2 separate regions of the Homo sapiens genome follow, and region 2 is linked to region 1. The links come from fine-mapping of genetic effects on gene expression. A gene starts in region 1. The other region holds a variant in brackets. All regions are shown on one strand. Distances are between the middles of the regions.

Region 1 (2,913 bases):
GAAGACCTAGGGTCCAATCTGTTAACAAAATATACTTATTAAATAGATAAGTGGCCTTTATTTCAATCTTACTTTACCTCTAAAATGATCTAAGATTCTTCTAGCTATAAAATGGCATAACTCTGCCACAATGTCTACCTTGTATCTAGACCTATACTATCTGTAAGGGTACACTGATAGTTTATGTAATTAAGCAGATTAAGAGTACACAAAAATAATTGCCCTAGTTTTTACAAGGTAACTTAAGATCTGTATGAAACAATTAAGTTTCTGTCACTTTACAGCTACCTGTTGGAATCCTCTCCTTTAGAGCAGGAGGGTGCTGGATTTTGTGTTTACACCAAAATAAAACCAGACATGTTTAAGGCGCTTACTGAACAATTTAAAGAAAAAGATAACCCTGGCCAGAGTAGAGAGATACAGTCACACAATGAAGCCTGAGGGCAACAGAAGGAGATTAAATTGTGTGAAGGACAAAAAAGTTGCATTCATAATTAGTACTATTAATATTTCAGTGACTCTTCCTCATTTAGTATTCTAAGATGACCTTACTTCTCATGTTGCTTACCACAAACTCAGAACTCCTTATAGAAAAATTAGGGAGCCAGACGGAAATTAAGGCTTAACAGTACTACAGCACACATAACTTGTAGGATGGTTTCAAACTTTGATTTCTGAAAAGCACCGAAGGATCACTGGGTGTTATGAATTATCCACGTGATTTGGGGTCACTTCACCTCAAATGCATTCTCGGTAACTCCTATTACCTACCTTACCGGGTCACTGAGAGGGAGAAAGTAAATAAAAATGACATGTGTTCTTTAAAGCTGTCACATGGGAAATGGTCATTAAACATATTGGCAGATGGTTTTGCTAAGTACTGTCATTACTTGCTAAAGCATTAGGAACACGAGGGCTGAGTACATATCGATTACTAGTGCTTATTAAAATTTTCCCAGGGATTGTGCATTACGTGCAGGACGTGCCTAACCCAGAGAGACTCAAGTGTGACGCCGCGCTCCTACTTCCGGGGCGGCTGGTTCTTCCCGTCCTCCCCACCCCGGGGACACGCTTCTAGTAGGCCAAACTCCCAGGTGACCCCCGCAAGAAACGCGGTCCGGAGAGGGTCTGGCCCCACTGCTGGGGCAAGGGCTCTAGGCGCCCGGACCCCACGCCCGCAGCCTGCGGAGAACGTGCCGACAAGGACCTGTAGGGCCCCACTCCCCCTCCTCCCTCCCTCGGCGCAGCCCGGCCCAGGGGTCTGTCCTCCCAGGCCCAGGAAAGGAGGAAACCCACTTCCGCCGCGTCCATGATCTCCCGCGGCTTCTCCTGACTCTTGCGGCTGGCGCTGGCGCTGGGCATCGGGACACGGAACTGGGCAGTGGACACCACCCTCCCTCGCAGGCTTCCGTAAGGCAGGCCAAAGGGGCTTCTCCCTCCCTCCCAGTCTCCGCCCTCCCGACCCTGGGGTCTCAGCACACGCGCTCGGACTCCGCGTGGAGGTGCGGCTCCAGAAAGATCGCGAGAGCTGCGGCTATCTCGAGATCCCGGAGCGCTGGCGGCCGCGCGCAGGGTCTCCTCCCACTCTTGCCCCGCCCCTCCGGGAGTTTTCCCGGAGTTGGAGGGAATTCCCGGGAATTCGCGGTAGTTTCGCTGGATTGGCTCTGGGGGCGGGGGCAGGGGTTACCAGGTGGCTGGCTGTAGACCTGGGCGAATGCCAGCTCTCTTCAGCTTCGTCCCAACTGCGACTTCTGCTCCATTCTTCTAACAGCCCTTTCAACTCCGCTCGGCTGTAACCGCAGACTCGTCACTAAAACACCCACCTAAGCGCGGGCCTTGGTTTCTCCTCTCTTGGACTTTCCCGCCTTCTCTCTTCCCCTGGGCGACGTAGCTGCTTGGGGACGGAGGAGGCCTCTTCGCAATCCATTGCCCTGCTTGTTGGGACAGAGGAGTGCAGTTGGCTTGCCAAGGCAGCATGGGTTACCAGTCCCTGTGTAAGTGAGGTGTAAATACAGTGGCAACGACAACAAGAAACGCATACAATTGCATTGATTGCCTGGATCTGTTGCAGTGTTAGGGACAGTGCATAGTGTTGGTTGCCCAATGGGCGAATATCCCCAAGTTAGGCTTTTTTAAAAAACTGATTTTTTAAAAAAGCTATCATTCATGAGTTTTGAATCGAAATTGAAAATAATTTGGAGATTTGGTTTAATACTGTTTCCCCTGCCAGAGTTTGCACTCCGTCGTTTCAACTGACTTGGTAGTGTCTTAGTCTGGCACAAAGTGTTAAGGGGTGCACATAGATCCCAGCGCAAGTGAAAGGCTCTCTCTGGAGGCTCCCCCATGGAGTAGTGAGAAGACAGCCATGGTCCTTGCTTGCCTGTAGCTTTCCTTCTAATTGCAGGTGGTATGAAATTTTATTCCCTATTTAATTGATCAAAGATTATTTACAAACATCTACTTTGTGCCAGGCATTCTATCAGGTGCTGGCAATAAAAAGATAAGTCCTAGTTCCTGTTCTTAATATTACACAGGTACCTAGGCTGATAGATGCGCCATCTTGATACATGCTTCCATTATTACAGAGTCAGGAAGAGAATTTAGCTCTTAAAATGGCTGCCTGGAAGTGACACATTTCACATTCTCCTAGTTTATTGGCGAGAACAAGTCACATCGTCATTCCTGAGTTCATGGGGGCAGGAGAATTTACTCATTCCTTGGGGAGCAACACTGAATATTCATGATCAGTATCACATTCCGTTAAAAAAGGCATCCCATTATACTCATGGGATTCGAATACAGAAGGGGGTCTGTGAAGTTGCTTCATCTTGGAATTTTTTTTAAAACTTGGATTGCCTCAATCAGGTATAGTCCTAATGTATGGACTGGTTATCAGAAATCTGAATACAAATC
Region 2 (2,913 bases), 190 kb before region 1:
GAGGCTTGTGACTGCCAGCTTTCCCAACTTCCCTAGCAACCTGTATGACACAGCAGAGGAAGCCATAATACCCCTGGGAACAGAACTCCACTGGCCTGAGAACCAGCCCCCTATTCCCCCACAGTGGCCACAGCAAGCCTCACCCGAGGAGAGTCTGAGCTCAGATATGCCTAATGCTGCCCCAACCTGATGGTCTTTCTCTACCTTTGCTGGTAGCTGAAGACAAAAGACATAAACTCTTGGGAGCTCTATGGCCCCGCCCATAACCTGAGAAACCCAAATACCCTGGCCAACGTAGGGCAACCTTGTAATCCCCCTTCTACTACCGCAGCTGGTGGCAGTGGAAGGGGAAAGCACCTCAAAAGTGCCACCTCCTCTCTTGAAAGTGCCACCTCCTGGCTGGAGACCAACCAACTCACGCCATTATAGCAACTCATAACAGAAGAACCCTGCTCCAAAGAAAGAGAAAACAACAACTAATTCCACTGCCTGCAACATCCTGGCTAACCAGAGGTCCTGAGTCTGTCCACATGACAACTTCACTGCTCGCATAACCAGCGTTTGAGAAAACCAGTGCACGAAAGAAAACTACAACCAAGGACCCTCACAGAATCCACTTAAGTCCCCTGCCACCTGCACTGGAGCAGGTGCTGGTATCCATGGCTGGGAGACCTGAAGACAGATCACATCACAGGACTCTTTGCAGACATTCCTCAGCACCAGTTCAGATCCCAGTAATTCTGCTGGGTGGATAGACCCAGAAGGGCAATGGCAATCACTGCAGTCTGGCTCTCAGGAAGCCCCATCCTTAGGGAAAGGGGGTGAGCACCACATCAAGGGATCACCCTGTGGGACAAAAGGATCTGAGGGGCAGCCCTTGAGTTCTAGATCTTTCCACTGAAACAGTCTACCTGAATGAGAAGGAACCAGAAATGTTAATTCTGGTAATATGACAAAACAAGGTTCTATAAGACCCCCAAAAGGTCGCACTAACTCTCCAGCTATGGATCCAAACCAAGAAGAAATCTCTGAATTGCCAGATAAAGAATTCAGAAGGTTGATTATTAAACTACTCAAGGAGGTACTAGAGAAAGGTGAAAATTAACTTAGAGAAATTTAAAAAACAATACAGGATATGGATGAAAAAGTCTCTAGATAAATAGATATCATAAAGAAAAAGACAATCGGCTGGGCGCAGTGGCTCACACCTGTAATCCCAGCACTTTGGGAGGCCAAGGCAAGGGGATCATCTGAGGTCAGGAGATAGAGACCAGCCTGACCAACATGGAGAAACCCTGTCTCTACTAAAAACACAAAATTAGCCGAGACCATTCTGGCCAACATGATGAAACCCCGTCTCTGCTAAAATA[CA/C]AAAAAAAAAAAAAAAAAATTAGCCAGGCGTGGAGGTACGCGCCTGTAATCCCAGCTACTTGGAGGCTGAGGCAGGGGAATCACTGGAACCCGGGTGGTGGAGGTTGCAGTGAGCCAAGATTGTGCCACTGCACTCCAGCCTGGTGACAGAGCGAGACTCTGTCTCAAAAAAAATAAATAAAATAAAAACTGTTACTTAAAAGGTGAACCAAAATCTTTTACTATCTCTACTTCATAAAAGCATTGTTTAAAAAGAGAAAATAAAATTTTACTCTTGTATTATTGTAATATTTATTAATATTAAAGCGAATTTTGATAAAACCTAAACAATTTTTTTCTTGAAAATCCTTTTTAACAACCAAGCATTTTTAGAGTTAAGCAGCCTGTGAAAAAGAACGCAAAATAAATAAATTTTAAAAATGAAATAAAAAAACAAAAAGCCAAGCACATGTGCCCTAATGGGAGGTGCCCTGGAGACCCCGGCCTTCTCTCCCTCTTGCTTGCTGGAGATTTCCTTGGGATCTGTGGGGTGGCGAGCATCTTGCAAACCCCGGCACATTCGGCGTTGGAGGCCCTGTTTTGAGGCTGGGCAGGCCTCAGAGAGCACAGCCAAGGGCACCTTTCTGCCTTTTCCAGAGATGGCTCCGGGCTCCCTGTTGGTGGACTTACCTGTCTGCATCAAAAGAAGAGATGGCAGTGGCATAGTTGAGGTTGTAGGCGAGGACAGTGGTGTAGTGATTGAACCCAAAAAAGTCATAGGTGCCGTTGATCCTCCTCTTCTCACTCTCTGTAAATTCTGGCAGCCTGGGTGGAAGAAGCCATTGAGGGCAGGGCTTCAGGGAGAGCCATGCTTTGAGAAGAGAACGTCATAGGGCTGGGGCGGGGGAGCTCTCCGAACCCCAGGCACTTGGCAGTGAGTAGGGGAAACTGGCAGGGAAGGAGAAGAGGTCCTTCAGGCGGTGCAGGAAGCACTGCGGCTCCTCCAGCCAGACCATAAACCTGGCTTCCCTAGGTCTCTACAAGAGCCTCTGAAACCTGAAGGACCACACACACACGCACCCACGCGCGCGCGCGCACACACACACACACACACACACATGCATAAACAGTTTTTAATTTCCTTCAAACAACATATGCAAATTCTGATATTTAGCATCTATGACAGATTTCAAAATCAAGAGCATGCCTGAGGTACATATCTGAGACTCTTCCCCTATGTTTGTAAAGTTAGATCTTGTATAATTTTTTTTTTTTGTGGCTGAGTCTGGCTCTGTCACCTAGGCTGGAGTGCAGTGGCGCGATCTCAGCTCACTGCAACCTCCGCCTCCTGGGTTCAAGTGATTCTCCTGCCTCAGCCTCCCAAGTAGCTGGGACTACAAGCGCCTGCCACAACTCCTGGCTGATTTTTTATATTTTTGGTAGAGATGGGGTTTCACCATGTTGGCCAGGCTGGTCTTGAACTCCTGACCTCAAGTGATCCGCCCACCTCAGCCTCCTAAAGTGTTGGGATTACAGGCATGAGCCACCACACCCGGCCCTGTA

Direction of the effects. Positions count from the first base shown, and alleles are read on the strand shown. Sizes are in standard deviations (SD) of each study's normalised expression.
As copies of C replace CA in region 2, the expression in monocytes after LPS of the gene that starts at base 1,520 in region 1 goes down (large effect, 0.85 SD a copy in Fairfax 2014).

What was found. PIP is the estimated chance that this variant, and not a neighbour inherited with it, causes the effect.
Region 2: its variant is fine-mapped to the expression of DARS1 in monocytes after LPS (Fairfax 2014, PIP 0.95). The same link has a PIP of 0.9 or more in monocytes.

The regions. Positions count from the first base shown.
Region 1 is chr2:135,984,107-135,987,019 of GRCh38, forward strand. It overlaps DARS1 (aspartyl-tRNA synthetase 1), which reads right to left and starts at 1,520. Exons shown (of 16, transcript NM_001349.4): 1 at 1,297-1,520. The coding sequence starts at 1,362. DARS1-AS1 (DARS1 antisense RNA 1) reads left to right here and starts at 1,070. Exons shown (of 4, transcript NR_110199.1): 1 at 1,070-1,410. RefSeq lists a silencer at 1,157-1,216 and an enhancer at 1,267-1,366.
Region 2 is chr2:135,792,601-135,795,513 of GRCh38, forward strand. LCT (lactase) reads right to left here. Exons shown (of 17, transcript NM_002299.4): 14 at 2,041-2,175. Among named protein-coding and RNA genes, the nearest start is that of LCT-AS1, 26 kb to the right of the region's middle. The variant CA/C (reference allele first, on the strand shown) is at 1,371.